Regions from separate parts of the Homo sapiens genome. Here regions 1 and 2 are each reported to be linked to region 3. Evidence: microRNA targets listed by miRTarBase, many of them from high-throughput screens and not tested one by one. Region 3 holds a microRNA gene; each other region holds the end of a gene's coding sequence.
Evidence for each region. The annotated mature microRNA hsa-miR-204-5p reads UUCCCUUUGUCAUCCUAUGCCU and lies in region 3 at 2,271-2,292, opposite strand. An mRNA with a match to its seed (bases 2 to 7 or 8) in the 3' UTR can be bound and repressed. Matches are read on the target gene's strand: a 7mer-m8 pairs with bases 2 to 8, a 7mer-A1 pairs with bases 2 to 7 and ends in A, and an 8mer does both.

Region 1: miRTarBase lists ARHGAP6 as a target of hsa-miR-204-5p. Seed matches in the 3' UTR shown: 7mer-A1 at 1,503-1,509.
Region 2: miRTarBase lists CDH8 as a target of hsa-miR-204-5p. Seed matches in the 3' UTR shown: 7mer-m8 at 2,852-2,858.

Annotation. Positions count from the first base shown.
Region 1 is chrX:11,136,186-11,139,185 of GRCh38, reverse strand. ARHGAP6 (Rho GTPase activating protein 6) reads left to right here. Exons shown (of 13, transcript NM_013427.3): 13 at 1-1,642. The coding sequence ends at 323. Among named protein-coding and RNA genes, the nearest start is that of HCCS, 26 kb to the right of the region's middle.
Region 2 is chr16:61,651,181-61,654,180 of GRCh38, reverse strand. It overlaps CDH8 (cadherin 8), which reads left to right. Exons shown (of 12, transcript NM_001796.5): 12 at 80-3,000. The coding sequence ends at 573. Among named protein-coding and RNA genes, the nearest start is that of CDH8-AS1, 270 kb to the left of the region's middle.
Region 3 is chr9:70,807,761-70,811,030 of GRCh38, forward strand. MIR204 (microRNA 204) reads right to left here and starts at 2,324; the gene lies at 2,215-2,324. The region is part of intron 6 of TRPM3 (transient receptor potential cation channel subfamily M member 3); the gene reads right to left.

The DNA of each region.
Region 1 (3,000 bases), not on the chromosome of region 3:
AAAGACCCCATGGGAGTGGGAGGGATGACAAGCGGCCCCCGCCTCCATACCCGGGCCCAGGGAAGCCCGCGGCAGCGGCAGCCTGGATCCAGGGGCCCCCGGAAGGCGTGGAGACACCCACGGACCAGGGAGGCCAAGCAGCCGAGCGAGAGCAGCAGGTCACGCAGAAAAAACTGAGCAGCGCCAACTCCCTGCCAGCGGGCGAGCAGGACAGTCCGCGCCTGGGGGACGCTGGCTGGCTCGACTGGCAGAGAGAGCGCTGGCAGATCTGGGAGCTCCTGTCGACCGACAACCCCGATGCCCTGCCCGAGACGCTGGTCTGAGCCCGCACCCAGCCGAGCCCCCCCTGCCCCGAGCCCCCCGCCCTCCAGCCCAGGGGGGACCGTGGGTGGTGGCCACTGGCACACTTAGTGTTCTTCTTTCACACTTCTCAAAAGTGACACAAGAGAAATCCAGTTCACCTACAGAGGTAGAGCACTCACGCCCCCGCCATTGAGAATAAGGTTCCATTGCGTAGCCAGCCTTAGGAAAAACAAACAGAACCCAAACCAGATGGCAATGTCCAATCTAAAAACGTCCCTCTTGGCTCTATAATATAAGATACAACTCTTGCTTGGTATAGCCTAACCGTATTTATGTGTCTTCGGTTTTGACTATTGTGTATTCTGTAACAGATTATGTATAATCATATATGATATATTCACAAAGAGAAAACAAAAGGAACTTTTAAAAAAAAAATCACTTCACTTATATTAAGCAATGAGATATACTAAACAATGAGATTCTATAGAATGTTCTAGAATGTGCACAAGCGGGTTTCTGTGCTTTTGCCATAGCTTTATAACTGGGGATAACCCTTCCTTCGATACCAAACACTAACAAGAGGAAGCAGAATATGAGAAGCCATATTTTTACATAGGAGTCAGATACAAAAAGAAAAATCACTGAATGCTTTTAGATATTGAATACGTTTTCAGGAAAATGCTAAATCTGATAGATTACGAAATATATTTTTAGAACTTGTTTAGAAAGGATTCAGTTAACCAAACAAGAAAAAGGCAGTGCCTCACAAAGAAATTAAGAAGTTGTCCGTCCCACGTTACATCAAATTCAGTTTTATATAGGCCATATATAATATATATTTATAATGTATAATTTTTATGTATTTTTCAAAACTACAAACTGGAATCCAACTATAAAGTGTTTAAGAATCTACACAGAATATTCAAATTATAGAACATGTTTTTTCCCTTTGCCCCATAATCAGTATTTGCCAAATTACATGCAATTCCTTAAAAACTAAATCACATTTGGTAAAAGGCCTACAGCTTTGTACTTACATTGTGCCAAAGGCTGAGGAAATGTTTTCTTTCGTAATTTTATGTGTATTGTAAAATGTTCTACCGTACTTTAGTAGTTTGAAGTTTTTCAAGTGCATAACTATTTTTGACCAGCAGATGGCGATACGCTTCAGTATTTTATGCAATTTTTTTTCACTTCTGAAGGGAAAGTGTATTATAAAAAAAGATTTTTTTTTTTTTTATAAAACATGCTACTCTTAATTTTCATGTTGGTGATGAAATTCCCAGTGGTGTTTCTTAAGGTTCTATCTTGTGCCATGATGAATAAAAAGTTAAGCAAAGGCTTTGTTTCCTGGCTTTAAATCTCTTGAATGAATTTGCATCACATTTCAGACATATTCTTCACTATCCACAGATCCAAGTGTAATAAATCATGGCAATTCTATGCATATACATATATAGCAAAAAAGCTGGTTTAAAAATATCAGATGGCTTTGGGACATCAACTCAGTGACACCAAAGCATTTAGAAATGTATAATAATTTGTTGCAAGTAAAGGCTGATTTCCTCGACTGTTGAAGAGGTGGTTTTCTACAGGACTGAAACTCAGGTTTCCTGAGTTTCCTGAACTGTGTTGGGCAGCTGTTGCCCAACGCAATTCCTGTTAAGCTACACCTGCTCTGTGGGCCTTAGATGCCTAATTTGCTTCAGGGCCGAAATAATAAAAGCTAGAAGTGGCATGTGGTATTTCTTATTTGGGAATGGTTTGAGATAGCTTCAGGCTCTGCCATCCGGTCCAGCACTTCCACCACTGGCTGGGACTCAGGGAGGATTTGCCTGCAGACCTCTGGTTCTTCCTGACTGCCCACACTCAGCCAAAAGTTGTCAACAAGATCCAGAGGAAATGCTGCTTGGTTGTGGATCGCAGGTGGCTTTTCTGTGCCACCTACTCTCATCCTACTCCTGCTGATGCTACTTCCCTGGCTTTGAATTTGACCATGATCTGATCAGTTCTTTCCCTCCTTCCTAGATTGGATGGCCTGATAAATGCGACTCTCTTTCTACCATGTTCTTGCTAGAGTAGTCCTATTTTTAAAAAAACATCCAGATCAAATGGCCCTGAAGTTGATGCCTGTGTCAGAAAAGGTCACGAAAAGTATGTCCATCTGTTAATAGATCTAAAATAAGCAGTCCAGAAAACAGGACTCACAATATCTTTTACATATATCTCAATATTCACTCTCCCTCTCTTTGTACATTTAAGCTTAGGGGCCATGTCTTTAGCTTAGTGAGTTACAGCTTGTTTCTTTTTCTCTTTTGAGATGGAGTCTTGCTCTCTCACCCAGGCTGGAGTGTAGTGCTATGATCTGTGCTCACTGCAACTTCTGCCTCCTGGGCTTAAGCGATTCTCCTGCCTCAGCCTCCTGAGTAGCTGGGATTACAGGCGCACAACACCATGCCCGGCTAATTTTTGTATTTTAGTAGAGATAGGGTTTCCCCATGTTGGCTGGGCTGGTCTCGAACTCCTGACCTGAGGTGATCCACCCGCCTCGGCCTCCCAAAGTGTTGGGATTACAGGTGTGAGCCACCGTGCCGGGCCTTGTTTCTTAAATGCCTTTATCATATTGAAAATAAGCAGTTTAAAAAAAATCGTACATGAAACCCAAAGACCTGAGGGAAATTATCCTTTCTAATACCT
Region 2 (3,000 bases), not on the chromosome of region 3:
CTCTCCTAACATATATAGTGTGTTGCTTGTGAAATTATATGCTTGTTTGGCTGACTGTTATTTAATATTTTTCCTCTAGTCATCGTGGTGCTGTTTGTAACTCTACGGCGGCATAAAAATGAACCATTAATTATCAAAGATGATGAAGACGTTCGAGAAAACATCATTCGCTACGATGATGAAGGAGGAGGGGAGGAGGACACAGAGGCTTTTGACATTGCAACTTTACAAAATCCAGATGGAATTAATGGATTTTTACCCCGTAAGGATATTAAACCAGATTTGCAGTTTATGCCAAGGCAAGGGCTTGCTCCAGTTCCAAATGGTGTTGATGTCGATGAATTTATAAATGTAAGGCTGCATGAGGCAGATAATGATCCCACGGCCCCGCCATATGACTCCATTCAGATATATGGCTATGAAGGCCGAGGGTCAGTGGCTGGCTCCCTCAGCTCCTTGGAGTCCACCACATCAGACTCAGACCAGAATTTTGACTACCTCAGTGACTGGGGTCCCCGCTTTAAGAGACTGGGCGAACTCTACTCTGTTGGTGAAAGTGACAAAGAAACTTGACAGTGGATTATAAATAAATCACTGGAACTGAGCATTCTGTAATATTCTAGGGTCACTCCCCTTAGATACAACCAATGTGGCTATTTGTTTTAGAGGCAAGTTTAGCACCAGTCATCTATAAACTCAACCACATTTTAATGTTGAACCAAAAAAAGATAATAAAATAAAAAAGTATATGTTAGGAGGTTATAAATCTTGTGGAGTGTGAATTAAGTATGTGGAGTGTCTAGAAGTCCTTGGATATTTGATATTTACCTGACCACCACAGACAAAGATTGGGATCCTGGCTAATCCTTAGATAAATGGTTTAAATAGAGGAAAAAATCATAATTAAAAGGTGCTTTCTTAGAAAAAAAAATACGGACCTGCAAGGAATCTGCTGCTGATATGTGTCTTCTGCAAGGATTTTTATGAATGCAAATGGTTTTTTCCCCTTCACCAATAAGGATCCCGCCACAAATGATAAAGCAATACTTGGTCTGCTGTACATTATAACTTTTTGGAGTTTTGAGAGGCCTCCTAGATTATACAGTACGGTGACCACACATTGTACATAATTGTTGGCCCCACTCACTAGAGACTGAATAGCATCTTTAAATATTGTGTCGAGCCTTAAAATATTCACATGTTCGTAATCCATTCCAGGGTGGGGCTTGCCAATTCAGTGGTGGGAGGAGAGAAATCCCATTCAAACATGCTTGTTTTCTAGAAGCAGGATTCCTCGTTCCCTCCTCTTCATCTTCTTCCACAAGGACACAAAGATAAACTGTATCACACAGTGGACTACATAAGAGACAGATGGTTTTATTGCTAGCGCGTGAATTTATTTGTTTAATCCTCGAAATAAATATTTTATTGATGTCCATTAATGCTTTTATTTATTAAGGTCGGTAATCTATAGATTAAGGGGATATATGGGAAAAAACTAAATTATATCCATTAATAATCCTTTAGATTGTTTTATATAAATATATATACAATGAATGTTTAATACATGTACATTTTGATGAGATGAGTATGGCAGGCAATATTATCGAAAGGAGAGCTAATAGTCTCTTTAGAGTAGAAAGTGTTATTGTAACTGGAGATGGCAGGAACAGCATCTTCCCAGACAAACTTTTGGACTGTTTTCTATTTTGTTCATAATCCTAGTATTTGGTGTTTTTACTACAAGCACAAACATCCTAAAGTATATTGATTCCTGTGAATATTTAAACTCTAGACTTTTAGATACCTACATCATGCCCTGCCCAATAAACATGCTTCAATTTACCCCCACAGTTTTAGAGCAGGAACTGATTTGTACATAATTTCACTGTTTACGTTTTTAGCACTCCTATCCCTGATCTTCATGGTGATGCACAGAATGTCTTAGACTCCAAAAAGGAACAGCACTAGAAGATGTGAGCATATTTAATTTGTAATGCAAACCTGCCATTTAGGAGTAGAAAATGTATGATAAAACTCAAGTATTACATGCAGATCATTTTAATTTTCTACTTTGCTTTAATGCAATATTGTTTATTCACTCCATGTATTGTATTCAGAGAAACTCCTGTATTGTTTCCTACTTTGTGAAATATATTTTTATAAATACCTTTGTTGTCATTAATTTTTTTTTCAATCAGTGGAAGATCTATTAACAGAATCATCAACTCAAACTAAAATTCTAGAATACTCAACCAAATCATCCCAAGGGTCACTTTTGTTTGTAAGACTCTTTATTATAGAGAAACAGAGAAGAGAAATGGCTTGCCAGTGATCACACAGCAAGATACCAGCAGGGACATAAGAGGAACATGGAACACCTAAAGGCTAGTCCAGCTGTGTCATTTGGGTCCTTCTGGAAGCAGACGCATTGGGCAGGGAAAACCTTCAGACAAGTTTGCAGACCTAAAACTTGTAACAATAGAGGGATTGGGAGCAGGATTTGGCAAGAGAGTCTTAGACTGCAGTGCGGACCTGGCAAAATCTCTGCCAGTCTGACAGGGGGTTCTAGAGTGAAAACACATCCATTAAAGCAGTCAGGCTGTGGTCCTCTGTCATCTCAGTCATTGGTGCGGGGCTGCTAAGAAGAGAACGGTTTTTGACTCAAAAGCTGAACGCACCAACTTCTAGAGGCCACCTTCACTGTGACAGAAACTGCATGTTTAAATACTATACTAACAATTTATAACTATCCGGTGGCTTAATCAACTTTTTATTGAGTTTCTGTTGCTGAGAATAAGTCATCTTTTATGCGTATTATTACGGCTAGTGAACACTTTTTCTTGAGGTCAAAGGGATGGTCCAACATGACTTTAAAATATACTAGGACTTGGCACAGTGTCTAAAACAAGTGCTTGGTGAATGTAAATTATTAGTAGTAGTTGCAGTAATAACCAATAGTAATATTCCAACTATCTTACACCTTCCAAACCAAGGAGA
Region 3 (3,270 bases):
TGTGGGAGAGGCTGATATAGAGCACAGCAAGAGCATGGAGGATGAGGTGAATGTGGGCCCAGGAGGATACCAGGGTATGAGCTGGAGGGAATACTAGGGATGGGAGTTGTGGTAAGATTACAGAGAGGAGAAGATTTTTAATCTGAGACTTGAAGGAATTTAGGTTTTGGCCAGGTAGTTAGAGTGAGAAGAGAATGAAATTTTAGTAAATGTCAGAAAGAGACAAAACCACATCCAGTAGGGTATATCATTTAAGGGAAACTGTAAGTATCTTGAAATGGATGGGACATACGATCTACATGGTGTTATGTTAGGAGAAGCTATAAAAACAGATGAAAAATATGAAAGGTAGTTAGCAATGAAATAAGGAAGATATTGGGTTCCATCAAGATAACAGGTTCCTATGTTATGCTAGGAACCTATTGTATCTGACCAACAACAGTAAACATTGCTGACTTTGAGACCAAAATGCCAGTCAAACATTGGCAACCCAAATCTTTCTAATCTGAAAAGGGAGCTCAAAATTCTTCCCTGAATGTAAAAGTGTCTAAGAAGTCTTAGAATGGTGGACAGCTCTCCTGTTGGGACCTACTTGTTTACAAGAACTATCCCAGTCCCTGAACAACTAATTCCAATGTAGAAAAGTCTCTTTGCTGAAAAAAGGGAGGTCTTTAGCTTGAATAGGAAAATGGGTGAGATAAACATGACAAGTCAATACCAAGAAACCAGTTTCGCTAAAATTTGCTCTGTTCCCTCAAAGTTATTTTTTTGGCTTCATTATTACCTTTATTGACAAAGTAACTTTTCATTAACAAGCATGACAAATATTTCAGTTACACAGCCAACTGTGTCAAGTCGTTTCATATAATGAAAAAGCAGGGATATAGATTGTGTTGTTTATTCCTCACAAATTATTCTTTAGAGGGAAGACCCTCTAAAAGGCGGAGAAAGCTTTAAACATGTTTACTTGACAGCACCTGAAAAATGATGTCATTACAGTCTAAAGTGAACTGATCATCAATTTGGTATTTGTGTTTTGGAAGGCCTTTCCCTTGACTGTTTGAGGCAGTAGAAAGTTTGCATGATTGGGCTGAACAGATTGTAGCACCCACAGAAGGAAATAAGATGTTCTTGATATACAGTCATGTGTTGCATAATGACACTTTGGTCAATGACAGACCACAAATACAATGGTGGTCCCATAAGGTAGTAATAGAGCTGAAAAAGTCCTATCACCTAGTGACATCTTGATGATTCTGACCCTGTGCAGGCCTAGTTTAATGAGTGTGTTTGTGTCTTCATTTTTAAGAAAAAAGTTTAAAAAATACAAAGATAAAAAATTTTAAAGACAGAAAAAAGCTCATAGAATAAGCAAATGAAGAAAATATTTTTGTATAGCTGCATAATGTGCTTATGTTTTAAGCTAAGTATTATTGCAAAATAGTCTAAAAGTTTTAAAACGTTAAAAAGTTTACAAAGTAAAAAAGTTACAGTCAGCTAAGGTTAATTTAGTTTTGAAGAAATAAAATTTAAAAAATAAATTTAGTATAGCCTAATTATACAGTGTTTATAAAGTTTACAGTAGTATACAAAAATATTCTAGCACTCACTCAGTGACTCACCCAGAGCAACTTCCAGTCCTGCAAGCACCATTCATGGTAAGTGCCCTATTAAGGTGTACTATTTGTATCTTTTATACTATGTTTTTATTGTGTCTTTTCTATGTTTAGATACACAAATACTTACCATCGTGTTACAGTTGCCTACAGTATTCACTACCACATAGTAACATGCTATACAGGTTTGTAGCCTACAAGCAATAGGCTATACTATATAGCCTAGGTGTGTAGTAGGTTATACCTTCTAGGTTTGTATAAGTACACTCTATGATGTTCATGACAAAATCACCTAATGATTCATTTCTGAGGATATAGTAACCCCATCGTTAAGCAATGCATGACAGTATATGTAACCTGTCCAGGGGAATCTTTGCTTCCTTTTCAAGTCACATGGTTTGGACCCAGAACTATTAGTCTTTGAGAGTATATTTCACTCCTTCCTAATTCCAGAGCTGCTTGGATGAAGTTCTACTATGACCTTTAACATACAGTGTTTTTCATCTCTCTTATGGGACAGTTATGGGCCCAATGATGGAAAATTTCATGTCATGGTTATCCCAATGCATTTGATGATGGTGCAATGATCAAAAAAGATGCCAGTGATGACAATTGAACGTCCCTTTGCCTTCCCAGCCTCCTTCATATATTCTCAGGCATAGGATGACAAAGGGAAGTCCACGAGTCACATGAAGAAAGACTGTAGCCATGGGTACGCGATCAGGAAGTCCTCTGCTTGCCTCCACCCCCACCCTCCTTTCCATCACCCTGTCCTATGGGTACATGATCAGGAGGTCCTCTGCTTGCCTCCACCCCCACCCTCCTCTCCATCACCCTGTCCTATGGGTACATGATCAGGAGGTCCTCTGCTTGCCTCCACCCTCACCCTCCTCTCCATCACCCTGTCCTGTGGGTAAATGATCAGGAGGCCCTCTGCTTGCCTCCAACCCCACCCTCCTCTCCATCACCCTGTCCTATGGATACACGATCAGGAGGTCCTCTTCTTGCCTCCAACCCCACCCTCCTCTCCATCGCCCTGTTCTATGGGTACATGATCAGGAGGTCCTCTGCTTGCCTCCATCCCCACGCTCCTCTCCAGCACCCTGTTGTATTTCTTCCTAATATTGTTTCTCCACCATCTTGCAACTAACCACCATCTTCTTCCCAAAGTTTTGCTTGATGACTCATTCCAACTGAATCAATGCTCAACCTATATTTGGCACAGAGTTGGTGCTCAAATAGTTGCTGAATGGAATAATGACCCTCAAACTCTCCAAGGTAACCAAACTTTAGGGGAGCCTTTTTAAAAAAATGAGATAATGCTTCCATGTGTAGGATGAAAGGAGAAAGTATTTTGGAATTATGTCAGCCTAGGTTTGCACCCAGCTGTGCCACTAATTGGATTTAAGGCAAAGGCTTAACCTCTTGGAGGTGCCATTTCATCAACTGTATAAAAGGAAGAAAATAATCCCTATCTTGAAGGGTTTTTGTGAGTATTAAAAGAGATAGTATATATGAAAATGCCTAGCATGGTGCTTGGAACCTAAATAAATGCTCATTCCCTCCTAGTAGTATCCCAATAGTGCCGTCAAGCTGTCCTATATGGTATCTTTAGGATGATAAATAATAGGGAGTAACTAATTTCTGATGTGGT